Homo sapiens: one gene and its partners. The protein of the gene in region 4 purifies or fractionates together with the protein of the main gene of each other region. This does not show direct contact. Each region holds a gene or a part of one and is shown on either strand. Other genes may lie near its edges. The genes, in order: SERPINB3, CALML5, POF1B and GPR18.

Evidence for each region.
Region 1: the proteins of GPR18 (region 4) and SERPINB3 purify together in Homo sapiens (affinity purification with mass spectrometry; 3 studies listed by BioGRID and IntAct, with this or other methods). This does not show direct contact.
Region 2: the proteins of GPR18 (region 4) and CALML5 purify together in Homo sapiens (affinity purification with mass spectrometry; 3 studies listed by BioGRID and IntAct, with this or other methods). This does not show direct contact.
Region 3: the proteins of GPR18 (region 4) and POF1B purify together in Homo sapiens (affinity purification with mass spectrometry; 3 studies listed by BioGRID and IntAct, with this or other methods). This does not show direct contact.

The regions. Positions count from the first base shown.
Region 1 is NC_000018.10:63,658,893-63,666,380, forward strand, and holds the start of SERPINB3 (serpin B3), read right to left. Parts: upstream 3,002-7,488; 5' UTR 2,954-3,001; intron 2,351-2,953; 5' UTR 2,325-2,350; coding exon 2,160-2,324; intron 1,965-2,159; coding exon 1,908-1,964; intron 636-1,907; coding exon 507-635; intron 1-506. UniProt on the Homo sapiens protein: May act as a papain-like cysteine protease inhibitor to modulate the host immune response against tumor cells. Also functions as an inhibitor of UV-induced apoptosis via suppression of the activity of c-Jun NH(2)-terminal kinase (JNK1).
Region 2 is NC_000010.11:5,498,170-5,504,517, forward strand, and holds CALML5 (calmodulin-like protein 5), read right to left. Parts: upstream 1,402-6,348; 5' UTR 1,270-1,401; coding exon 829-1,269; 3' UTR 528-828; downstream 1-527. UniProt on the Homo sapiens protein: Binds calcium. May be involved in terminal differentiation of keratinocytes.
Region 3 is NC_000023.11:85,278,649-85,285,677, forward strand, and holds part of POF1B (protein POF1B), read right to left. Parts: intron 3,670-7,029; coding exon 3,555-3,669; coding exon of another isoform or gene 3,531-3,554; exon of another isoform or gene 3,467-3,530; intron 779-3,466; coding exon 773-778; 3' UTR 1-772. UniProt on the Homo sapiens protein: Plays a key role in the organization of epithelial monolayers by regulating the actin cytoskeleton. May be involved in ovary development.
Region 4 is NC_000013.11:99,255,360-99,262,285, forward strand, and holds the start of GPR18 (N-arachidonyl glycine receptor), read right to left. Parts: upstream 3,021-6,926; 5' UTR 2,795-3,020; intron 1,161-2,794; exon of another isoform or gene 969-1,160; intron 548-968; 5' UTR 514-547; coding exon 1-513. UniProt on the Homo sapiens protein: G protein-coupled receptor (GPCR) that plays a role in diverse physiological processes particularly within the immune and nervous systems.

The DNA of each region.
Region 1 (7,488 bases), on a different chromosome or scaffold from region 4:
AGCAGGCTTCCCTGAAGGAGATTCATTGCTTCTCAGACCTCTTTCCAGTAATTTCAACCATGATGTTTCTGATCTTTGTTTTTATCTTTCATCCTGTGCATTCAGTATTTCCTGGTACTTCCTCAACTATTCTCAGGAACTCACCCAAGCCTGCCCATTCCAATAATATCCCATTAGTCATACATTTCCCACCAAGATGTATCGTATGTGACTGAGTCAGTGCCAGTTTATCGATGGTATCTTATTACTTATTACTCTTACTCACTCTATTACCCAACCTCCTCTTTTATTACAAGATTATCCCTAAATCCACACTTCAGTGATGTATTGTTAGGGTCTGGGACACTCCAGTGGGGGAGAGTTGTGGAAACGGAGCTATTGCACTCTGAGTAAATGCTCTCCACCTGGATCGGTCAGGCTCATCTGCCTTGCTTTCTTCCATTTGGCCACTCAGAGACACAGACATCAGGATGCAAATGAAATGTGGGTAGGCCAGGTGAAATTACCTGTAAAAATAGATACGTTTTTTCTCCGAAGAGCTTGTTGGCGATCTTCAGCTCATATGCATCAGTGGATTTGTTGAATTCAGTCAGAAGCTTTTGAAACTGGTGATGAACATTTCCTGACCTATCAACCTTCAAACATCAAAAAAGGAGATCATTCAATTGCTGTATCAATGTAAATACTAAACCCATGCTAAGTCTGTTAGATCAGTCCCTAATGGCTGGTAGTCTCAATGAGGACCTTTGAGCTTATTCCCTGATACTTGGTGTATTTCACCTCAAATACCCTTCAAAATCCACCTTATGTTTCACTTCTTCCAGGAAATTCTTCTTGCTCTAATGTACTGCAATCTTTTCTCTTCTGAACTATAGATGCAGCACTGTCTACCACTGGATTTTGTCCTTGTTGGTTTAAAGGGTTAGGTTTAGCTTCCCAGTTAAACTCTCAGCTCCTTAAAGGCAAGGACCATATTTCACTTCTAACAGTCATCAAGGATATGAGTATGTTGAAGGTTGGATATTTTAAATAGATTATGCCAGGAAGCCCTGTTATACCTGTTGGTGCTGTTATCTTGTAGGACACATTGACTGATCTGTGACTGTTTCCTCATGATGGTCATTCTCTGCACGTAAGAAGAGTGTGTGCCAGGTACATGGCTAAGGACTTTACATGGGTAACTTTAAGTCTTTAGTTCAATTCAGGTGAAAACAAGAAAGCTCAGAGAATGGAAAGTAAACCTCTTCATAGAGACATAAATTAGAAGTGCCACGTTTTGAACCTAAGCCTGTTTAAATCTAGAAACTTCTACTTTCCAGCAAAGCATTTTGCACTATTAAGGCTCTAAACCAATATATTCCATAGCAATCATTTTCCAAAATATAGTTGGACTTGTGCTTATTCCTCTTTATCTCATTAATGACTCAATGAAAATTAAATATTTTGCAACATTATTGTGATTAGTATAATTATAGCTATTTTATAATAATAATAACATTTATTATGACATTTTATGGGCAAGGCAATGTTGTAAACATTTGCATGTATTTGCATGTATTGAGTCAGATTTCTTATTACCCTTAGTTTTCTGGGATGAGGTCACTGGGACTCTGAGCAGTTGTGTCCTGCTCATGTTCACCATTTGTGAAGAGCAAAGCTGGAGTCTGAACCTAGCCTATCCTGATCCAGACCTATGCTCTGAGGTACAGTGCTGACTGTCTTTCAGTAACGAAGAAAGGAGGAATAATAATTATGTGCCATGAAATGCCAACCCACTCTGTATGTCTCAATCTTTGTGTCCAAGATTTTCCCTAAAAATGGCCTTTTCTTAGTTTCTGTGAAGTTCCAGGTTCAAACTATGACCTGTTCGGGGATCTAAAGCTGAACCATAGTGCTCTGTGACTCACATGATATGTTGCAGCTTTTCCTGTGGTGTTCTCTGTGACTTGATCAAAGTGAAGAACCTGGAAGAGACATGAAGCGGGACAAGAAAACTTTACTCAAAAGATCTGTTTAAGTCAGTGGTCTCACAGTTACGGGAATTCCTGCTCAGCCCCCTGTGCTACCCATCAGACCACCACATCTATTACCATCTGCGTGCTAGCCGACGGAACCAGAGAAAAACTGCAACAGGACAACATAATGATGCTGATAGCTACCTTCTTAATCTGTTGTGCAGTGTTGTCTTTGGCTCCTAAGAGGACCATCCCTAATGCTGATGTGATGCTGATAGGGGAATAGAAGATGTTGTTCTCTTTTGATTTTCTGAACTGTTGGAACAGGTCGAACATGAACTTGGTGTTGGCTTCACTGAGTGAATTCATGGTGAACTCGATGTGATCTGGAACTCCTGGAAAAGCATCAGATTCCTGTCAGAATGACTTTAATAAATGGAATGGTATTTTGTAGTACAATTTTCTTAAAGAAATTATATATCTGTGTTGTGAGATTTTGACATTTAAAGTTTTCCTCATCTTATTTTTAACGTTTCAATCTTTCTACAATGTGCATATATTAAATATATTAATGTCTTAATTAGAAGCCTCACAAAATTAGTGTTTTTAAAGACTACTGTAAATAAGTAATAGACCCTCTTTCCTTCATTGCTGGCTACACTAGGGCTAGGTAGGAAGGCTTTACAATGAATGCTAACAGGAGACCTCTGTGGATCACATCCAACCAGCTGTTAAGATGCGTCCCTGACATCTCCTTCAAGACTCTCTGGCTGCAAGGCACTCTCCCTCTGTGTTCCTAAAAGTGCCTTGGTTTACTTGGAACTAAGCAATTTAGATAAAGGACAAATCAGATGAAATAGGTATTTTAATTTTGCTCTGGCAGAATAAGTAAAATATAATCAGACAGAATGCAGGAGATGCATGATATAGAACACAGTATCATTATTATTCTCAAAAATAATTCATGTTATTAAGCTGGAGAGGCTTGAAGCTCTTACCTGTGTTCCTAGAGGAAGCAGAGGTGGGCAGAGAGGCTATGTGTGTCTGTGGAATGAAGGGTGAGATCCTGAATTTATGCCTCTCCTCTTGCTGCCTCTCCCTCTGTGGTTAGTATTTGAAGTTACTCAACTTCAGATTTCACAAGCGGGCTAACACTCACCTTTATGAATACGAAAATTTATGACAAAGGACAGGATTACAGTTCTACCATTGTACCTCCTTTTTAATCTATAGGGAAAAAATAAGAATGCAAGTCAGCAGTCACCGGCTCATGTGAAATACATGTAGGTGCCTTTCTAATGCCAATGAGAATAAGTTTAGAATTCCAATTTCCTCTCATTTGTTTCAACTCCATCCCTTTGTATTCTACTCCAGCTGTAAAACAAAAACAAAAACAAACAAACAAAAACCCCACCATTCTTTTCTTGGATTTTGCATTGTCTTTTAGGCATACTTCGAATACCAAAGAACTAAAAAGCTTACATTTCCTGTTTTTCAGTTCTGAAAGTTTTTGTCATCCTATGAATTTCCTTAGTAATTTTTCTGTATAACAAGGAATATAGTGCTAATTCTAAGTCCAAAGAGATAGTGAAGAAGTGTACTTCAGTATCTTATAGCATACTATGGAGAATAGGATTCTATTGCCTTCTCCTGAATGCTCAGCTTTGGCAGTGATCCTACCAGTCACTTCCTGTGCCCCTTACAACCATCCCAGATGGTTTTCTGTTGCATAGGCTCAGTGAGAAAGTTATCTGCCTTGCTGAGTGATATGGTTTGGCTGTGTTCCCACCCAAATCTCAACTTGAATTGTATCTACCAGAATTTCCACATGTTGTTGGAGGGACCCAGGTAGAGGTAATTGAATCATGGGGGCCGGTCTTTCTTGTGCTATTCTCATGATAGTTAATAAGTCTCAGGAGATCCAATGGGTTTATTAGGGGTTTCTTCTTTTGCTTCTTCCTCATTTTCTCTTGCAGCCACCATGTAAGAATAACTTTTGCCTCCTACCGTGATTCTGAGGCCTCCCCAATCACGTGGAACTCTAAGTCCAATTAAACCTCTTTTACTTCCTAATCTCAGGTATGTCTTTATCAGCAGCATGAAAACAGACTAACACATTGAGTTAACAGGCTGACACTGAGAAGAGCAATTGAAACAGACGGGCCATTTTGAATGTCAGCTTTCTAATTTTTCATTTAAAAATTAAGCAGAAAAAGAAGTTGCTTGACCTGTCAGGATCACAACGTTTCTTGGTGGTCCTTCCATTTAGCACCTGGCTTCAGACTCATTCCAGTGTTTCCTCTGGAATATCTTGTAATCTGAAGAATGTCTGTGGCCAGGGAGAGGGTTGTTGTCCAAGGCCATTTAATCCAATATCTCCCTGACAACCAGAGTGGGGGGCTGTTTGTTTTGTGGACCCCCTTTTTTAACATATAATTTATATGCCACAAATTCAACTGTACAATTCAATGATTTTATTATATTCACAAAGTTGTGCTATCACCATCATGATCTCGTTCCACAACAATTTCACTACCTCCAAAAGAAAACTTGTATCTCGTTCTTCCCTTACTCGAGACCCTGGAAACCAGTAATCTACCTCCTGTTTCTATGGATTTGCCTATTCTAAACATTTCACGTAAATCGAATCATACAGTAAGTCCTTTTGTGACTGGCTTCTTTCATCTAGTATTATCTTCAAGGTTTGTCCACGTCATTGCATGGATCAGTACATCATTCCTTTTTGTGGTCGAATAATATTCCATTCTATGAATAGACCACATTTTCTTTATTCATAAGTTGATGGACATTTGTGTTGTTTCCATCCATTTACTATTATGAATAATGATGTTTTGACTTTTCATGTACATTTTTTTGCATGGCATATTTCTTCATTTCTTTTGAGTATAAACCTATGAATGAAATCGCTGGGTCATATGGTAAATCCAGGTTAACATTTTGAGGAAATGCCAGACTCTTCTCCATAGAATTCTGCACAAGTGTGCATTCCAACCGACTGTGAATAGAGTTCTGATTTCTCCACATTCTCCCCAACACTTGGTATTGTCATGGGCCCTTTTTAACACCAGCCATGAGTTTGTTTTCTCAGCACATCATGAAGTCAAGGGAGATTCATCTACAACAAGGTTCCGGAAACAGATAGGATGAAGTAGGGGCTGGACGGGAGAAAGGAAGCTGTGTTTCCAATCTGGAAGTTTCTCACCTGCCTGTTTCCTCAACCCCCAAGACATGCTCTTCTTAGGTCTCCTGTATCAATATATATGTTTGGAGTCTCTGAATGAGTTTGGGAGGTATAAGTTCCCTGATTTAAGTTGGGTAATAGACTAATGGGGTGTTGATGATCTAAAAAGCTCAAAGATAGGAGAGAAAGAAACAAGAGGAAATATCCTAGATGAAGAATTCCAAAAATGAATAATGGTCTTCTTAGCTGAGTCTGCATCCAGGGCTGTAAGAGAAAAATGGACCTTCCTGTATATGGAGAAGGATGGGTTTACTTGGGTACCAAAGCGAAGGAATCTAACGTCTCATAGGACAGAAGCAAGAAGCTCAGCCTGGGAATAGAGGGGAATAAAAAGCAGGATAACAAGCTGAGGCAAACTGGGATTACAGGGGACCAGTCTATGGAAGAGAATTTCAGACTATGGCTAAATCTTCTGAGATGCTGAGGTTTGTCATGAAGGTTGAACTTGAGGAAAGGTACTAACTGAAAATGACCAGGAGTTTGCTTAAATTTAGAGAAAGCTTGGATGAGTTCAAATGAGAAACCATTTCAGACATTTTTTTCTGTTCCTAAAAAGTACTCCTGGCATGTGATAGACATTCTTGACAGGACATATCCTGATGTGCGAGATGGGACATATCCTGATGTCATATATTGCCACAGAGAGCTCAGGAATTCCAAGAAGTTTTTTGCATGTGAACACTTGCCAACTTATGTATCTTGGCATTTCATAAACCTATGCCAACTTCATTGGATCCAGGAATCCAGAAATTAAAAACAAATCCTCAATGGGAAATTACACTTTCAGGAAATATCCTGTCATTACTAATGTCTTTATAGGTTGGTTAACAAATATCTCCTAGATTTTCCTGGACCTCACTTCCTTATGAAGGCTGTAAAGTTTTCTCAGCATTGTGAAGTTACAAATTAAAGAGAACATTTATTTATTGTTTCTTACCTATGTGCTTGTGCCTATCTATAGGGAAACTGGTTAGTGGAAGAGATTTTTCAAGCATCAAATAACAGAATATATGCCAATTACTGTATTCCCAAGGATCTCTCTACAGATGTGAATATGTATATATTGAACAACCTCAGAATAAGATTAACTAGCTTTCCTTTCTTAGTTTTCATGAGGGAAAACAACTCCAGTAAGGTTTGAAAAGCAGAGCGGGAAATAGTCTCACATGTATGTTGCAGGAAGTCAGGGACCCTGAACCGAGGGACTGGCTGAAGCCATGGCAGAAGAACATAGATTATGAAGTTTTCATGGACATTTATTAGTTCCCCAAATTAATACTTTTATAATTTCTTATGCCTGTCTTTACTGCAATCTCTGAACATAAATTGTGAAGATTTCATGAACACTTATCACTTCCTCAATCAATACCCTTGTGATTTCCTATGCCTGTCTTTACTTTAATCTCTTAATCCCATCATCTTTGCAAGCTGAGGAGAATGTATGTGGTCCCAGGACCCTGTGATGATTGCATTAACTGCATAAATTATTTGTAGAGCATGTGTGTTTGAACAATATGAAATCTGGGCACCTTGAAAAAAGAACAGGATAACAGCAATGTTCAGGGAACATGAGTGATAACCTTAAACTCTGACCGCCGGTGAGCTGGGTGGAACAGAGCCATATTTCTCTTCTTTCAAAAGCAAATGGGAGAAATATCGCTGAATTCTTTTTCTCATCAAGGAACATCCCTGAGAAAGAGAATATGCCCCTGAGGGTAGGCCTTTAAAATGGCCGCTTTGGGGGGCAGCCGTCTTTTATGGTTGAAGCTGTAGGGATGAAATAAGCCCCAACCTCCCGTAGCGCTCCTAGGCTTATTAGGATGAGGAAAGTCCCATCTAATAAATTTTTGGTCAGACCGGTTGTCTGCTCTCAAACCCTGTCTCCTGATAAGATGTTATCAATGACAATGCGTGCCCGAAACTTCATTAGCAATTTTAATTTCACCCAGGTCCTGTGGTCCTGTGATCTCACCCTGCCTCCATTTGCCTTGTGATATTCTATCACCTTGTGAAGCACGTGATCTCTGTGACCCACACTCTATTCGTACACTCCCTCTCCTTTTGAAATCACTAATAAAAACTTGCTGGTTTTGTGGCTCAGGGGGTATCATGGAACCTGCCAAACTGTGATGTCTTCCCCAGACACCCAGCTTTAAAATTTCTCTCTTTTGTACTCTATCCCTTTATTTCTCAGACCAGCCGACACTTAGGGAAAATAGAAAAGAACCTACGTGAAATATCAGGGGTGAATTTTACCTGATATCTGGCTGA
Region 2 (6,348 bases), on a different chromosome or scaffold from region 4:
GGACACACACAGACACATAGACACAGAGACACACTCAGACACACACACAGATACACACATACACATGCAGATGCACACAAGGACACACAGACACACAAACATACAGAGACTTACACACAGATGCACACATACAGAGACACGCATACAGACACACAGACACACACACAGATGCACACACAGACGTACACGTATATTATTTGCAGCCGAAGAGAGGCAGGCTGCGTGCAGAGGCTGGCAGCTGGGCTCCGTCTGTCCATGCGAGGCGCCCGCTCCTGTTTGTGCGGGACACGTGCCCAGGTCCTCACCAGCAGCTCAGGCAGAACCTGGAGCCACAGACACCGCCCAGCACCATCCTCACACATCCTCTGCCCACCTGCCCTCTGCTCCGCGTCAGGGGAGGCAGGAGCTGCCCCTGGGGCCTGCTCCAGGCAGTTCTGCCACCGCAGGTGAGAGGGGTGGGCTGGAAGGAACCCTGGAAGCAGGTGGGGGCCCTCGGAGGCAGCCGCCCCACAAACACCAAGCACACATGGAACTCGGCAGTCCTTTATTTAGATCAATGCGGGGCTGAGGGGCCCTCATTCCACTGCAGGGCAAAGGGGGACCAGGCCCAAGGAGGCCTCCTTCTGCCCAAGGTCTGGAGGCAGAGAGGGGCTCGCAGGCGGCCCGAGGGCGCCGCATCCAGGCCCCGGAGCGCAAAGCCTTCCTCCCAGGGGGAGGCAGTTTCCCATCCACCGACCAGGTTTCCCCGGAGAGTCCCAGCACAAAAGCAGCAGCGGGCGGTGGCCCTGAAGGCTCAGAGCGCAGCCAGGGGGACACAGGCGGGGAGCCTCACTCCTGGGCGAGCATCCTCGCGAACTCCTCGTAGTTCACCCGCCCGTCCTGGTCCACGTCGGCCTCGCGGATCATGGCGTCCAGCTCCTCCTGCGGCAGCGGCTGCCCCAGCCCCGCCATGGCCCGCCTGAGCTCGTCCACGGTGATGTGGCCGTCGCCATCCTGGTCGAAGGCGCGGAAGGCGACCTGCAGGTCCTCCAGGCCGGCCCTGGCCTTCTTCGCCGCCGTCAGGAACTCCTGGAAGCTGATTTCGCCGTCGCCGTCGCTGTCAACCTCGGAGATGAGTTTCCTTAGCTGGGCCTCCGAGAGGTTCTTGCCCGTGGCCTTCAGCGCCGCGCCCAGCTCCTGGGCATTGATGGTGCCGTTTCCATCCGTGTCAACCGCGGAGAAAGCCTTTTTGTACTGGGCCTCCTCCTCAGGAGTCAGCTCACCGGCCATGCCTGCGTCTCCTGCACCTCGCGGAGCCTCCGAGCTGCTGCCCACCGGCCCTCAACCTGCTGCTCTCAGAGCTCGTGGTCCAGAGTGCAGGCAGCCGCAGGGATCCGGGCAGCGTCTGTCCCAGACAGTTCTGCCTTGGCATGGGAACCCCCTCCTTTTCTGCAATCGGAACAAAGGGAGGAGGGAGGCTCCCCACCCTCCAAATGCCCTGGGGTGAGAGCCTCCTCCCAGGGAGGGCCAGATCAGCTGCAGACAGGAAATGCAGGAATGGGAGTTGGGAGAGCTGTCAGGTGCCAGGTGGGAACTGCCATGGGGTCGGGGTATCGGATGGCTAGCCTGCCAACCCCGCCTGGCCTTGATAGCAACCACCTCCCTCCAGGAACATTCTGCCCAAGGGATAGTTTCCCCTGCAGCTGATTCTCGGAGATCCTGACCAAGCCAAGGGGTTCAAGACAGCTTCTGCAACTTCACAAAGACTGAGACTGGAGGGGGAGGTGGCTTGAAGAGGGCTCCCTCAAGGGCACAGCAGGCCCCAGTGTTTGGTGTTTCCGTACCCCTCTCTCCAGTGCTACTGCCTAGCTCTTGCCCTGAGGCTGGGGCTGGTGGAAGGGAAGTGGGTGGTAGTGTTGATTCTGCCAGGGCACAACTGTGGGTATCATGAGATTCCCAGGCCAGGGTCTAGAGACAGAGGATGGGGCTCACTGCCTATAACTTCAAGGAAGCAAGGGACCAGGGCTGCCTTCAGAGCCATAGCTGGTGCTGAGATGGTGTTTATCAAGTGAACATGTGACGTGCAGTTTCAGAGGAGAGGGAAAGACTTTTTGTCTCCCCAGAATACTCCCTTCTAGCTCAGGGATTCCTACAATTCAATTCCATCGCCAAGTCCAAGGTTCCCTGTGCAGACACCCTGGGAGCTCAGTGGCAGGCGTTCCATTCACAGGGCGTCAAACAGTTACAGCTGGAGTTTTGCTGCAGCGAGACACGGGGGACCTCAGTGCCCAGCATACCCCAAAGGTGCAGGCAGAGGTGCAGGAGGATGCAGAACAGGTGGCTGCCATCAAACTTGGCCCTCCTTGTGGTTTTACTAAGCATCAGCCCTAAGCACAGAGACCCATCTGGGAGCCTACTGGGGTCCTCAATCTGATCTGTTCTCTGGAAGGAAACCCCCAGGGCCACTTGCCTTGACCAACTTTTAGAGCAACAGCTAAGCTTTCGGGGGACCATCCCCAAGTCCTTCCACTGATGTGATCTACAGTTGTGAGGGGACATTTGCCTTGGAGTCCCCAAAATGCCTTTCCCAAGCAAGTCCCCTCTGATCTCCATAGATTCCCATTCTTCTCCCCAGCCCCTGCCCGTACACAGGGAACAAACTCCTTTATTCCCCTGGGAAAGTTTATACATTCCACCTCCCTCCTGTTCAGCCCATCAAATAGACCAAGTGCCCTCTCCTTCCCTAAAGTGCAGCCAGACAAACACCTCCCAGCCCCTTGGTGCTGCACACATTCTCCAAGGGAAGCCGGAGGCTGGGGTGCCCAACCACGCACTCCATGACCCACAGCTCAGTCCCCCAGGACCACACAAGGGGCAAACCAGGCAGAGCAGTGAGAGGAGGGAAGATGCCCCAGCCAGCCCTAGTGTGGCAGCTGCTCCCTGAGCTGCATGTGAGGGGCCAGAGGGAGGTGCAAAGGGCTCGGAAGCACCACAGCAGAGGGAGAGGCTGAGGTCTGCAGAGAGGGAGCTCCGTGGACCAGGTACAAAAGGGAAGGTCATGGTCAGCAGGGAGAGGGAAGGAAGGGGGTCACCCCACCGGAGTTCAGGGGGACCCAGCATAGACAGAGAGATGCAGAGAGCAGTGTCCCAGTTGTCTAACTCATTTTATAAAGATAGCTTGAAGATTTTCTAGCTCACCTCAGTGGTGGAATAATACAGAGGCCTCAATAAATATTGAGCAACCAATTTCTCAATGAAATTGACAACCGGTTTGGGGTGGAGAACGTGGTTCTGGCCAGGAGATGAGAACAGAGAAGCATCCTGCCTGGTGAGGGGCCCAGGGAGGGCGGGACTCTGAATAGCTGGATTCAGCCCAGCTCCTTGTTTTATTTCCTTAAAGAATACCTGAAGATTTAAATCTATAGTTGAAATTTCCTTTCCTTCTGATCTTGTTGATGGGACCTGTGATTAAAATCCAAAGGCTTAATAATTATTTCATGTCATTTTCCCCAGGTATTAAATACTACTTTGCAAACAATATTAGGAGACTTGAGCTCCCGGTTCCAGTTTTGTCAGTGATGTGGAAACGTGTGTCTCAATATCCACATCTATAAACTAGGATGATGCACCCACCATATCTGATCGGAGCGTGTAGGATCAGAATATTAAGTACAGAGCCAGCAGCAGGTGTTATTATTCTATGATAAACCTCATGTTAATAACGAGCTGATTCATGTTTGATGTAAACCAACACTCGGGAAAACATCTACTTGAAGGGGAATCTCACAATTTTGTGATTATACCTCTTTTGATTGAACGGAAAAATTAAATGCGTCCACCTCGAGGTTTAGTTAAGTCCAACATGCCAAGGCTCAGAGCATTAGCTGACTTTTCAGTGTCAGCTCCAGACAGAGGCAGTTCCATGCAGAGCAGAAGCACCTATTTAGAAAAAGCCTCAGGCTGTCTCATCACGAGACAGGATGATGGTCACTATTCTCACGATGTGCGTTTTCTAGATGGAGAGAGGCCGTGTCCATAGGGAAAGTCCCCTGACTTCCCGCTGCGTGTTTCCCCATCCGGGGTCATTTCCTCCCTAACACATTCTCTTTTCAGGGCATGTACAAGCACTGAGATTGTTTTTTTCATCCTCCCCTCAGCCTCCCACCACAAGTGGCTTGCAAGTATGCAAGCCGTCAGCTGCCTTGGCTCAGCCTCTGTGGGTGAAGTTTCCACTCCCCTCCTCTGGGTTCAGCACTAGGGACACCAAGGACGGCCATGCCTGAGTGACCCGCACCACAGACGGCCTGGCACAGCCCAAATGGGGGCTCCCGAAGAGGGACAAGATGGCATTTGTTGTCAAATCTAGGCAAGCTTGGTCAAGCCCCTCTGCCTTGGCTGGTTTAGCACGGCAGTTGGGTGCAGAGCCTGGCTTTGAGGAGGGAGAAACCCTTCTTTCTAGCTAAGGTGCATTCTCAGGCGACGCCTTCTGCGTGTATCCCTGTGTGATGCAGGGGCCAAGGGCATCACCCGTCCTCCACTCCATAAGGAGCCTGAAGCTGGGGTGCCCAGCCGCTGGCTCCACATCCCACAGCTGAGCTCCCCCGACCCAGGGGCCATGTGCGAAGCAAACCCAGCAGGGAAGTGAGAGGAAGGAAGATACCCCAGCTAGCCCTAATGTGGTGGCTGCCCCCGGAGCTGTGTGCGAGGGGCCTAAGGGAGGTGCAGAAGGCTGGGAAGAACTGCAGCAGAGGGACAGGCTGAAGTTTGCAGAGAAGGATCCAGGGACCAGGTGAGAAAGAGAAGGTCGTGATCAGCACAGAAGAGGGAAGTGGGGGGGTTTGCAGGGAGATGGCAGCTTTGTGATTGAGTGCTGGAGGTGGGCTCTCCTCCCCTCTCCCGCGCCTGTCAGCTGAGCCCCTCATGGAGACGCCAACTCTCCCTGCCACCCTGGAGGAGAAAGGGAGTCTCCTTCATTGAGGAGGACTGAAGACGTCTGCAACTTGCTATAGAAAGGATGAAAACCTCTCCAAGGTGGCTGGACAGGTCCCCAGAGGCAGGAAGGGGAGAGTTATCATCAGTCATGGGACTGCCTTGTGCATTAGCTGTGTGCACATGTGTTTTTGTGTGTGTATGTATATGTCTATTTGTGTGTGCATGTGTGTGTGGGTTTGAGTTTGTGTGTGCATGTGAGCACAAGTTTGCATGTGTGTGCAAGTGTGCATGCATGTATGTGTGTGTGGGTTTGAGTTTGTGTGTGCATGTGAGCACAAGTTTGCATGTGTGTGCAAGTGTGCATGCATGTATGTGTGTGTGTGTTGGGAGAAGATATGCAGGGTGTAGGGTGGCTGTCCTGTTCAGGCAAGGCCAGCTCTAGCTTTCACACCAGACTCACCCCGGGAACAAAAACACACTCTGGCACTTCCACTACACTTTGGCTCCTCAGAGTGGAGAAACCAGTCAAACAGGCCTTGGAGCCTCAACCAGCACAGAAACTCCTCACACTTCTGTGTTTGCAGAAACTGATCTCACCTGGCACCTGTGCTGTCTCTGCAGTGTTGGCACAGCCCTGACCTTCTCTGAGGACAGGGCAGCCCCAGGGAAATGAGAAGGGCCTGTGTGGAGGGTGTGATCTGTGGAAGAGAACACGGGGGACCCAGCTTCACAGAGCTCATCTCCCTTGCGATTATCCTCAGCAATGAGAAATAGAAATGATGAGCGATTGTGCTGGTTGCACAGGCAGCTGGCTCCGAGCCCCCTTTCCTGGGTACTCCTAGACACTATCCACCTTCCCTGCACACCACACACCTCCCCTACACACCACACACCTCCCCTGCACACCGCGCACCTCCCCTACACACCACACACCTCCCCTACACACCACACACCTCCCCTGCACACCGCGCACCTTCCTCCCCTACACACCACACACCTTCCTCCCCTACACACCACGCACCTCCCCTACACACCACGCACCTCCCCTACACACCACACACCTTCCCTACACACCACACAACGTCTTCCCAACAGCGTGTGGTAAGATCACTGGGGGTGAGCTCCTGGCTTCTGCACTTTGCTCCCTGTGTGGCCTGGGTGAGCTGTTTCACCCCTAAACGCTGCATGCCTCTCTGGTGAAGAATATGGTACTAGCACCTGCCTTATAGGAGACTTGAGAGGGGCAAAGCCCTGCAGGAAAGCCTCCGCCCAGCACCTGGTGAGAGCAAGCACTCAGTAGGCAGAGCCCCTGCTAGCTCCTGCACCCCCTGCCTGCGCCAGCTCTCTGCTGGGTGACATGCCAGGCTGCTTCCTGGGCAAAGCAGAAGTATCCTCACTGCAGACCTGGGTGGCAATTCTAAGTTCTCAGGGCTTCAG
Region 3 (7,029 bases), on a different chromosome or scaffold from region 4:
CCTTACACCTACTACTACCACATTGTGTTATATGTTTTTTAAGAAGTAGGTAGGCTCATTTGGGGAAGGTATGCTTTGAAAGAACAGATTTGCCAAGGGACTAATATGTACTTAGAACCAGAATAGCATACTGTATAATTTAGTGGACTTAGTTATTTCAAAAGATATTATTCCACTTCCCTGCTAAATGAAATTAATCATCACCTTTGACTTTCAAGAGGTGAAAATAGCGTGTAATAAAGCATATCTTTTAGTCATCAGGCCTACTGTGAAAAGCAAATACAGACTGTATATATTATATACTAGCTGTTATTTTTTGCTTCAATTGTATTTTATCTCTTTTGTTAAAAAAACATGATTTCATCTTGTAACTGAACTGCACATATAATATCAGAGAAAATCTTCTAATGGCATGACTTGTAAAATCTCTACCCCAACAAATTAGTTTGATATCTAGGAGTTACCTTATCTGAAACATAATGAGTTATGTTCTACAGTGTCTGCAATCAAACTTTAAACAATCAGGTCCCTCTTTCAGTTAGTATGTTGTTATACTGAATACATGAGTGTTATGGAAAAGATTTAGGTCTCATAAATGGGTGAAGAAATTGTCATCTACAGAACTAATTCATTCCATTAGATTTCTTGGGTAGCAGCATGGTTCCAAATTCTGATTGGCCTTTAGTGATGGAAAAATAACAAAGTACTAATGCAGAGACACACACACAAAAAAAAAACGGCTTTGAGTTGTAATACTTTAAAGTGGATCCATTCATGGCTAGAAAAGAAAAAAAAAGGTTATCTTACAACTGGTTCATAATTAAAGTCATTGTTACTATATGCAAAGTTATGGAAAATTATTTAAATTGGTATGTATAAAACCAAAGGACATGTATTGCACTTTTGTGGCACTCTTTTATATATATATATTCAATGAAACAATGATTTGTCTTTCTTACTTTACTCATGGTATGTTTCAAATGACTTTAAGCAAGAGTGAAGGACAATTAAGTAGATTTCCTTCTTAGTAATATTTAGAGTTTAAATATGTCCAATTGTCTCTTAATAAATATGGATTTTCATCTGTGAATGCATTTAAATATATTCTGACCTTGCTATCAGTATCTATAGATTCTTCAAATATCAATTTTGATTTTTACTGCTGCACATTTTTAATGGAGAGAGAAGTAGTGGCTACTATTCTGTAGAAACTTTATTTGGCAGGTCTTCATATTGCCACCTCTGGGATACATGTGGTTAGGGTTAGTGGCAGCAATTGCTTCTCAGTCTTAACTTTGGGCATCAAATTATCTTTGAGTGGCCAATTTTAAATTCTATGGGTTAATAATTAGTAGTAAGTAATTTTCAGCTAACTAATGACCTAACAAAAACAACATTTCAGAGTTTAAATGCAGTTATTTTTACTTTGGGATTACTAAACATTGGTTGTTTTCATTGATGATAACAACCATACTTAAAAGATTGATGGCTGGATTGTAGTTAAAGAAGGGCTTCAGCTCTAAAGAAACTTTTTGAATTTTTTTGTTGACTCAAATATTTGAGCTTGTTCAACCAAAAGATGTTTCTAGAAGTTATTTAACAGATGTTTAGATGTTTAATTTTATTAACTATACATCTGAAGCATAATTTTTAAATATTTTTCAAAAGGTTCTGCAGAATACTGGATTGATATTTGTATATTTGTCTATTGCTCACCACGGTACACTTAAGCATTTTAAGGCTTTTACTGAAGTACAATAAACATGTAGAAAGAAATGGACATATTATAAGTATTCAAATAAATGAATTTTCCCAAACCGAACATGCATATGTAACCATCTCCCAGATAAAGAAACAGAACATTATTAAGACCTTGAATCTCTCCTTATGCTTCCTTTTAATCAGTATCCATCCCACAAGGATAACCATTTCTTCATTTAATAGCCATAGATTTAGTTTTGCCTACTTTTATACCTCAGTAGTTTGACAGGTAGATAATTTTATCATAAGAAGTCAAAGGCTGTCATTTTCACAATGTTTTAAGTCAGATCTGTATGATTTGAGAACTAGAATCCTCAAACATTTCTCTGTTCATTTCACCAGAAGGATATCACACATTCCTATGATCCCTACCAGTGGCTTACTATTAGAATCTCTTGCACCAGTGTAGGAGTATATAATTAGGAAAAAAACCCAAGAGCATTCTGTTAGCAGAGTTTTTCAACCTCAACACTACTTATTAGGGGCTGGATAATTCTTTGTTATGGGAGACTGTCCTGCACATCGTAGTATGTTCAGAAGCATCCTAGTTCTCTAACCACTAGATGCCAATAACACCCACCCCTCTGGTTGTGAAAACCAAAAATGTCTCTAGACATTGCTAAATGTCCCGTAAGGTACAAAATTGTTGCTGTAGAGAGCAACTGTGCTAGGGAATATATAGTTGGCCCTTGGTATTCATGGGTTCCCCACCAATGATGGGTTGAAAATATTCAGGAAAAAAATCATTTCTGTACTGAACATGTACAGACTTTTTTTTTTTTTTACTGTTATTACCTCCTAAACAAGACGGTATGACACGTACTTAGAATTTACATTGAATTAGTTATTGTAAGCTAGAAATGACTTAAAGTATACAGTAAGATGTGCATAGGTTATATGCAAATATTATGCCGATAAGGGACTTGAGCATCTACAGATTTTGATATCTGTAGGGGATCCTGGAACCAATCTCTCATGGATATTGAGGGACAACTATATATCCCCTATTTGATGATCATTACTTTAAAAGTTAATAGAGCAATATGTAAAAGTTTTAGGGAAGTAGCTCTCAGTCCTTTATAAGAAGGTTTCAATAATCAGTCCCCTTAGCAATGGATTGGACCACTTAGAAAGATGCTAAGGTCCATGTCACCTGGCCATTTTGGAGGATGTTGTAGAAGGTAGAGTAAATATTGGAGTATATGATGTTTAAAGTACTCTTCAGCAACCTCACTATAACTGTGGGATTTAAGGCTGGAGGATGTTACAGTCTAGTGAGGAAGCTAGAAACATCTCTTCTTTCTAAATCCTAATATATATAATATATATATATATAAAATCCACAGGAATAAGTACCACATGCAAGATTGCAAGACAAATTCTATTGAAACATGCCTCTTCTCCATTTTCCAGTTGCCTTCATAATTGTCTATGATATTTGCTACCTGCTTTAGAAAAAGGGAAACTGTTTTGGAAAATTTTAATGGAACCCATTCAATAACTACCGAGCTAGGCAAGAAAATAAATAAAATTAGCATATCACTAATGTTAATCTTCTTCCTTTTGAGGGGCAAAAATTATATTTATATTATAGCTTAAATAATCAATTATATTGCCACATGTATGAATCTTTCCAAAATTTGTTAATTCCCACTGTATATCAATAATGGAAACAGAAAATCTCAAAAGAAAAAAATACTCAAAGTTTTTAGTTCATTTGATATTTTACCTCAATTTTAAAAGGCTGTACATATATCGTCAAAATAGGGCTAAAAATGCCCAAGTGAACTTACACAAGTGTATTTGTCTTCTGTTTTCTCAATCACAATAGTCTGTGTTTCACTACCTGGTGGTATATATTCGTAGTCATCATATAGGAGGCCTAGGATTGGATATTGTGTCCTGTACCTGTTGGCAAGAAAAGAGTTAGTTTACAGGCTGCATGAGAAAATAACTTTCATTCCTTTTTAGTCACTCCTAGTTTGATTGCCCTAATTAAGCCAATTCGGCTCTGAATGACTTTTTAACTGTTACTGAAAAAACAAAAAAATAAAAAAACCCTATTTCAATGGACAGAGATGTACAACCATTATTTTCAAGAAAATAAAATAGAGGGACTTCTGTTTCTGGCCATGATGGACGACTGGCAGCACAGGACAGTGACCCCAGAAAAGGGAAGCAAATGATATGGGCCCTACAAGTGCCTAGCTCACTGCCTGGAGAGATTTTCTTGGTCACGGGATAAGTAAAAGGAAGCTAAACAGATCCCAGCAGTCTCACCAAGATAAGGTGATAAAGTTTAGAGTAAATATAGGCAAAGGCACCCAGAGTTTGTGGGGCAGAGTATCAGACAGAAGAGAGCTACATAGATAGAGAGAGGTCAGGACAGCTGTAGAGGTTTTCCCAAAAGCCTTTGGGTGAAAACTGATCAGTGTGCCTGTATGTGAAGAAGCTACCAAGACTTAGGAAATAATGACTAGAAAGGAGCAGGCTGGCAATTTTGGGAGCTCTCATAGGGATGGTAATGTTTTGTGTTCCACTAACAAAACCAGAGTGAAAAGCTCTCCTGATATAGAGGCCATCAGATAGATACTGCAGAATATTGCCTTAGTAGTGGGATAAAATTAGCCTCAAAGTACAGGTTATTCTCAAAGAGTTTAAAAGCAAGGCTTGGATGTATTAAATTGTTTCCAAATAATTTCATCTCAGAACAAAACTCCAAATATTTTAAGTAATACCCTAGCGAAAATCTAAAACTCAACAATATAAAATCACAATTCATGGCATTCAACGAAAAATGAATAGTCATGCAATGGACGATACGACTAATAATGAAGAGAAATATAAATTAGTAGAAACAGACCAAGAGACAACACTGATAAAAAAATTAGTAGGTAAATGTGCATCTATTAGAAACATATAAAATATACAAGGTATATTCAAGAAGTTAGAGGAAAGCATGAACACAGGAGAGAAATAGATAATATAAAAAAGATCCACATTGGACTACTAAACATTAAAAAAATTAGGTGGAGTTAACAGCAGATTAGGCACTGCATTACAAAAAGACCGATAAATTTTAATACATCAAAATAAATAATTTAAAATAAAACATAAAAGAAAACGGAAAAAAATGAATGCAGCATGAAATAACTGTGGAAAATATCAAATGTCCTCATATATATATAATTAAAGTCCTGCAGGATTGGTGGTGGAAAAAAATAATTGACATAATGACCAAATTATTTCCAAGCATGATGTAAAGCTATAAACACACGTATCCAAGAAGCTCAGTGAACGTGAAAAAAAGAAACATGAAGAAAACTACAGAGAGGCACATCATTATCAAATTCTTGAAAACCAGTGAAAGAGAATCTTAAAAACAGCCTCAGAGAAGAAAGGACATTATTCAAAGAACAAAAATCATAAGATTAACAAAAAACTTCTCAGTCACAATGAAAGTCAGAAGACAGAAGAGCAATATTGTTAAAGTACTTTTTTAAAAAAAATGTAAAAAATCTCCTTAAGCTGATAAGCAACTTCAGCAAAGTCTCAGGATACAAAATCAATGTGCAAAAATCACAAGCATTCCTATACACCAATAACAGACAAACAGAGAGCCAAATCACGAGTGAACTCCCATTCACAATTGCTTCAAAGAGAATAAAATACCTAGGAATCCAACTTACAAGAGATGTGAAGGACCTCTTCAAGAACTACAAACAACTGCTCAAGGAAATAAAAGAGAACACAAACAAATGGAAGAACAGTCCATGCTCATGGGTAGGAAGAATCAATATCGTGAAAATGGCCATACTGCCCAAGGTAATTTATAGATTCAATGCCATCCCCATCAAGCTACCAATGACTTTTTTCACAGAATTGGAAAAAATTACTTTAAAGTTCATATGGAACCAAAAAAGAGCCCACATTACCAAGAAAAACCTAAGCCAAAAGAAAAAAGCCGGAGGCATCACGCTACCTGACTTCAAACTATACTACAATGCTACAGTAACCAAAACAGCATGGTACTGGTACCAAAACAGAAATATAGACCAATGGAACAGAACAGAGCCCTCAGAAATAATACCACACATCTACAATCACCTGATCTTTGACAAATCTGACAAAAACAATAAATGGGGAAAGGATTCCCTTTTTAATAAATGGTGCTGGGAAAACTGGCTAGCCATATGTAGAAAGCTGAAACTGGATCCCTTCCTTACACCTTATACAAAAATTAATTCAAGATGGATTAAAGACTTAAATGTTAGACCTAAAACCATAAAAACCCTAGAAGAAAACCTAGGCAATACCATTCAGGACATAGGCGTGGGCAAAGACTTCATGACTAAAACACCAAAAGCAATGGCAACAAAAGCCAAAATTGACAGATGGGATCTAATTAAACTCAAGAGCTTCTGCACAGCAAAAGAAACTACTATCAGAGTGAACAGGCAACCTACAGAATGGGAGAAAATTTTTACAATCTACCCATCTGACAAAGGGCTAATATACAGAATCTACAAAGAACTCAAACAAATTTACAAGAAAAAATCAAACATCCCCATCAAAAAGTGGGCAAAGGATATGAACAGACACTTCTCAAAAGAAGACATTTATGCAGCCAACAGACACATGAAAAAAATGCTCACCATCACTGGCCATCAGAGAAATGCAAATTAAAACCACAGTGATCTCAGGCCACTTAGAATGGCGATCATTAAAAAGTCAGGAAACAACAGGTGCTGGAGAGGATGTGGAGAAATAGGAATACTTTTACACCGTTGGCAGGACTGTAAACTAGTTCAGCCATTGTGGAAGACAGTGTGGCGATCCCTCAAGGATCTAGAACTAGAAATACCATTTGACCCAGCCATCCCATTACTGGGTATATACCCAACGGATTATAAATCATGCTGCTATAAAGACGTATGCACACGTATGTTTATTGTGGCACTATTCACAACAGCAAAGACTTGGAACCAACCCAAATGTCCATCAATGATAGACTGGATTAAGAAAATGTGGCACATATACACCATGGAATACTATGCAGCCATAAAAAAGGATGAGTTCACGTCCTTTGTAGGGACATGGATGAAGCTGGAAACCATAATTCTGAGCAAACTACCGCAAGGACAGAAAACCAAACACCACATGTTCTCACTCATAGGTGGGAATTGAACAATGAGAACACTTGGACACAGGTTGGGGAAGATCACACACTGGGGCCTGTCGTGGGGTGGGGGGAGGGGGAAGGGATAG
Region 4 (6,926 bases):
GGTGGCGGGAGTGGAGTCTTTATCTGGGTCTTTATAGAGCAGTAGCAGAGGGGTGGTCGTGGTCAGGGTCATTATCCAGACTCCCACACACGCCAGCACGGCTTTGCACGTGTTTTTAAGTTCTTTGGCGTACTTCGGCTGTACAATGGCCATGTATCTGTCAGCACTAATAAAGGCAAGAAGCCATAAAGCAATGCTTGGGTAAAACACTGTGAGAGCTCCAAGAATCTGGCAGAAGTACTCTCCAAATGGCCATTCATCTTTTGCATAATAAAACATTCGAAAGGGTAAAGTCATTATAAATATCAAGTCCACTAATGCCACATTCATCATATAGATGGTTACCGTGGTTCTCTTCTTGGTGGTACAACTGAAAACCCATAATGCAGTGATGTTAACAAATAATCCAATTATGAAGATACAGCTATAGAAGACAAGGGCTGCAATTTTGTATTCATCTGGATGTGAGCTGTTAAAAGGGACAGGTTGATCTTGATTGTTCAGGGTGATCATTTTACAGCTTGTTGGTAGGCATGATACTTAGAAACTGTAAAAATAGTTAAGAAAAATAAGAATAAAATCGTTGGTTAAAAAATAAATGCTTAACATTCTCCCACTCAGCTTGACTGCCAGTGAATTTTAAGTTCGAGAGCATTTAATCAAGGAACGATTCAACTGGTTAACTACTGAACATTCACAGTAATTCTCATTTGAGAGAGAATGGGAACTTTTCCTTTGTTACAGCTATAGCCCCACTGTCTATTGAGCATGTAATAGGTACTCAATAAATAAATATTTACTGAATTGATGAATAAATGAAGGAACTTTTGATGAGATGATTCACAGCAACTCTACTTTGCTAAAAAACTCTAGTTTGTAATTCTCTAGTTTGAAAATGAAGACTTGTGTAGCTGGCTATTAAACTTTTTGTTTTTTTTAAAGTGGAAACACTTCATAATATTTATTACCTTATGTTCTCTTTAAATTATCATAGGTTGAGAAACAGCAATGTTTTGTGTCATGGTCAGCAGATCAAGAACTAGACTGTTAGAGCAATAGATGAGCTGTTTTCTAGTGCACAATTGGGAGTACGTAAAGCCAAGTCTTCCAGGTTTTGTGATTTCAGCTGCTCTACTTCAGTGGTTCACAGAAAGCAGCACCTTGAAAAAAGCTAGTGCCGTTAGTAACTTTCATATCCTCATTCCATCTAGATTCAGAAGCTTCAATATTATTTAAATTTTAACAATTTTCAAAGTAAATCCAAAAAAGGAGTATCTAAGACAAGTAGATATTAATAAGAAGTCATTCAGTAACTTGATGTGTATGTAGAAACTTATAAATTTCCATCACCAAAAAAAAAAAAACCGTCCATTTTAAATGGAAAGGAGGTTATTTGGGGTTGCAAATATCATTGACTCCTCAGTGTGAAACTTCATTCCCCCATGATGCAACACCAACAACAGACTTCAAAAATAGACTTTGCTGCAATGAGATGGAATCTGTGGCATCCCCTTGTAATATGGAGGTGGATGAAAAGTTTCCTTCAAAAATGTCACTTTGCAGAGTGGGCTGTCTTGAAATCAGCCCAGAATTTCTCTTTAAGGAAAACTATGGGGGAGATTTGCTGTCTGTGGTCAGTGGCATCACGGGCTATTGATAATTAAGAATTAACTTGAGCAATTGCTGTGGTTAAACACAAGAAACGTGCCTGTCTGCCTTCCTTCCTTTCCCTTCCCTTCCCTTCCCTTTCTTCCCTTCTTCTCCTTCTTTCCTTCTCAAATATTTAGGTTAAATATGATTTAGGAGCATAATTCTATATATTTAAAAACATATTAAATTTTCCAAATATTGGTGTGACTAGAATATTAATTTCTATCAAATGAGGAAAGTGCTACAGAGAAAAATTATATCTCTAGTGTCATTCAAAGGAGAGTAATCTTGGAGGCTTAAATCTTATTTTTAACTGGAATGCATTCTTATTAAATAGTAGCAATTATAATATAAATGAAATTTTGTATTTGTTTTTCTTTTTTTAGTATTGCATCAGGACTCCCTTCACCTATCCTCATCCTTCAATTTTGTGACATAAGTCCTGTACTTACAAACCATCTTGAGTCTTTTTTCCCACGTTATGCTCAAGCTGTTTTTATGTAGCTTGTCACCAATACTTATATTCATTTGCTGACGTTTGAAAAAAAATGAGTGATGCATGTGTTTTAAAGGCATTATAGTATTGATTGTGCTCTGCAAACACAGAAATTTTTGGATAAATATTGAAAAGTGATTGACTTTAAAGTCAGCTTTTTAAAAGCTATAGATACCATGATTATCTGTAGCTTTTCTTTTCTTAAAAACCATTAAGTTATTTCATGAAACAATGTAATTGAAAACATGTGATGAACATTCCTAAATATACATATGATTTACCATAAACATTTTCTTTCCTTAAGTTGAAAAAAATTACATTTAGTATTAATGTAAAGCAATATTGAAAATAAATGTAAAATCATATTAATGTGGAAAGATGATTATATAGCCTATTTCAAGGTCTTTCACCAACATAGTTTGTTATGTTTATTTTTTTAATTAAATATATTTTTTTAATAGAGACGGGGTCTCACTATGGTGCTCCTGGGCACAACTGATCCTCCTGCCTTGGCCTCCCAAAGTGTTGGAGTTACAGGCGTGGGCCATTGCGCCCAGCCTGTATTATTAAAATGAAATGATTTTTGAAATGCAGTACATAAAGCATTACTTTTGACAATAATCATGAAGTTAATTAAATGCTGCTTACCTCCTGTCCATCAAAAGTCTGTGTGAGAGATGAGCATTTTTCAGCACTTCCACTTCTGTCGAAGGGATATCTTTGAGTTGCTTCTGTTAAAATAGCTCTTTCTGGAAACAGTGTATTTAAGAAATGTTGTATTTTGTTTTAGACTCTTTTGTTGCTTTAAAAAGTAGTTTCCAGTGTAACGCTTGGCGTCGGAGTTGGTGCTGGGCTGACTTTAATTGCTGCTTTGTCTCTTTCAGGAAGTGCTCTCTGAAATAGGCTTTTTCACCTTATGACTTTACCCTGGATGTGGTTTTTCTCTTTCACAAATGATTTGTTTATGAAGTCACACTTAGCATAAGCTCCCCTTGAAATGATGGCATATATTTAAGATAATTATATACAAAGGATAAAGTTTCTTCAGTTTGTGTACTTTGATGCTTGAAGTCTGCATCATCTATGGAAAGAGAAGATTTGATATTGAGTAAAAGGGGGTTTAAAGTCTAGCTTCTTTGCTTTATAAGCTATGTGACTTTGTCTAGTTACCTACCCACTCTGACTAACCCTTTGTTCCTACTTCATTTCTGTACAGTTGAAATAGAGATAATACTATATCCAGTAGGATTGTAGGGGCCCTAAACCAGAAAGATCCCAAGTGCTTAATAGTACCTGGCACTTAGTAGGTACTCCTAAATGGAGTCTCACTTTTTACTACCAAGTTATTAAAAATCATAGAATATCCACATTTCCACTTTTTACTATTTAAACATTTCTAAATGCTTAAAAGTAGGATCCTTGATTAATTGCTTCTGCTTTGCCACATACATTTATCCACTTTAGTTTGCTGTATTTTGTAAGTCTGCTTTTCTAGTGCGTGGAAGTCTAGAAATAATTTCTTTTGCATAAAAATTTCTGCAAATCTTAGCAGAAAGGACTCTGAAGTCTTTAGTGGACTGATTTACATATTAAGAGTGTTTTCACCTAAGAAGGGAAATGAAACCAGCAGAAAGGGAAGTGAGCAACGAATCGCTGCCTGCCTTGTTAGGTTAATTTTGTTTTACTTTCTCATTTCTTAAAAAAAATTATCTCTCATTTGCTTATCCTAAAATTTTAATTATCTTTATGTTTGGTTATGCATGGTTTGTCAACTTTTTAAAGGGTTCATGAACTTAAATGTATTTGTTTTTTTGAATTTTAGACAGTTTGGGGTCCATCCTTTTTTTTTTTTTTCTCAGACAAAACCATAGTAAATCTGTGGCTTAGAAAAGTTACTTAAATCCTTGCCTTTGGTGATAAAATACTTTTGATTGTTACAACCTGCCAGAATGATGGGTTTTAGAAGTGTTGGAGACAACCATAGCAACTATTTCTTGTGTGGATGAAGAAATTGAAGGCCAGTTACTTGCTTAAGAACTCAAGGTAAAGCCAGGTCCAGTTTCTCCCGCTGTAATAACTTCTTATGAGGTAATTATATTGATCTGTCCACTAGATAGGACTTCTTATGGCTGAATCACATTCATCAGTTTTTTATATGTGATGTTATATTTCATTCATCACACAGGAGTTTGATGTTTCAGCTGGACAGAAATCTGCCTGCATGCAGACCTAATCTGTCCTTTGCCTTATTCACATAGCTTAGGACTTTTCTAAAATTAAGTATTGATTAGCTTCCCCATTGCTGCTAAAATCAACAGATACATTGATGGCATGTGTCTAGAAGAGTCCTTTCATCAAGACTTGAATTCTTCACGGTGCACAGGGGCATTCTTGTTTCTGAATTGCCAGACTCTTAGAGGAGGCATCCAGGAGCACCTGAGGGCTCTCCATAGGCCTGGCTTCAGGTTGGGGTGAGCTCTCACTTTTTCCTCATCTTGCTCTCCATTCCAGCCCTCTGGACTGGCTACATTTGCTCTTCCTGCCTCTCACATGCTGTTCCACCCACTGTGGCATTCCTCACCACTGTCTCCCACCTGATGGCATGGCCTGCTGCTCTTTGTTCTTGTAGCTACCTTTTTCAGGAAGCTTTCTCTGCCATCCGAAGCTGGGCTGGTTTCTCTGCCCTCCGAAGCTGGGCTGGTTGTTCATCCCTGCAGGTTTCCTTAGCACTTGGTACCTATCCCTGTAGTGGCACATGTTTGCATTGTTACTGCATATTTACTTGCTTTTTCTCCTCCACTAAATTGCATTCCTTGAGAGTTGGCATGTGTTGCATATGTGTGTAGAGAAGAGGCATTTAATATTGGTTGAATTTCTGACTGAACAAGTAGGTGAAGAAATGGAGAGGTTGGGGGAGGAATGGATAAATGTCTGGGCCTTGAGTCAGCAGGCAGGGACACTTTGACCAGCTTATGAGATGGGGAGACTTAGGCAAGGGCCTGAGGTCTGTCGTCCTCCCCTGCAACCCATGAGCCCTATAGCATTGACCCCCGTTCGCTGTGCTCCTGGATCTTCGCGATGGTTTTGTGTTGGCAGGGAATTATAGTGAAAAGAAACTGCCCAGTCATTTGACAGCAAGTAAACAATGGGTCAAGGATTCAACTTGTATAATGTAGACACAAGTTTCTTTAATACTTGAACCTAATGAATTTTTTTTTTTCCCCAAACAGAGGAACTTATTCAGGGACCATTCATGCAGCTTTAATTTCTTCACTTACTTTGGAATATGAGTGAAGGAGAAATGTTTCACTTGCAAAAGAGGGATTTTACTTATTCCCAGAGACTGCAAGATTCCCTTTGCTTTATCAAATAGTGTGTTTTAGCTGCAGTTTTGGGTTTTGGTTTTGATATTAAAAGCCATAAGTGAATTTTGATTTTAGCCCTATAAACCAGTTTTTGAGTGAATATAATTCAGTTAAGCCAGTTTTTAATGAGAAAGAATGTAGTTAATAGATCTGTATAGCAAATTCCCACTATAAAATATGCTTCTATGTTAGACATTTGTCTATGCCACAGGTAAAATAATATTTCCTGTTCTGTTAGCATAGCAAGTGTGAGGGCAGCTTATCCTTGTTGCCTCCCATCAGTGCGGGGACCAGGGGTCCACTGTTGTTACTGTTCATGTATCCCAGCAGGGGGACAGTCAGCACACAGCCAGTCCCCAGGGAGAAGAGGGTGTGAGGCAGACAAAGAGTCCTCTGAACTAGAGGAGAGGCCTATCCTTTGGCCTTGACATCCTCCAACCTTTGTCCCCTCCTTTCTGTTTCTCAAACTTGTATCTAAACTGACTGCTCTTTGGGTGTGGGTGTAGGGGAGATATGTTGAATAGTAAGAGTTTCTGCATAAAGAAGATTGAGAAACTATTTGTCTAAATGTGTGGTTTTTCTTAAGTCCCAACAATTTACAGCTATAATCTTCTAACCCAGTTAGTATACCTCCTTTCTGTTTGGTTTCCTAAATTGTATTGTAAATTTAATATTCCCAAATTTCTTGTCTTTAGCAATTTTTGTGTGTAGTTTTAAAGATGTATAGACATGTAGACATTCAGACACTTAACCTCACAGCAAACAAGTTGAATCCATATCTAACCATATATAAGTGATGGCAGTGAAATCAGTCCTGGAACCACTGAAGTCCCATGGGACCCCAGGCCCAGAGTTTGCAGTGTGACATTTTACTATTGGAAGAGAGATCCAGAGTCGCCAAGGCAGCAGATTGAGCAGAACTCCATGGTTATTGTGAGGCACACAGCCTTCTGCTGCACATTCTGATCTCACAGTTACCAGAGGTGCAAATGGAGATGGGTATACAGTAGTCCCCTTATCCGCAATTTTGCTGTCTGAGGCTTCAGTTACCTTCAGTTACCTTCAGTCAAATATGGTCTGAAAATATTAAATGGAAAAATTCCAGAAATAAACAATTCATAAGTTTTCTGTTGCATGCCATTCTGAGCAGCAGGATGAAATCTCTCACTGTCCCGCTCCTTCCTCCCCAGGACATGAGTCCTCCCTTTGCCCAGTGTCTCCACACTGTAGACATTCCCACTCATTAGTCACTTTCATAGCCACCTTGGTGATCAGGTTTACTGTCACAGTGTCACAGTGCTTGTGTTCCAGTAACCCTTATTTAATTAATAATGGTCCCAAAACACAAAGGTACTGAGCCTAATGTATAAGTTAAACTTTATCATAGGTATGTATGTACAGGAAAAAAATAGTAA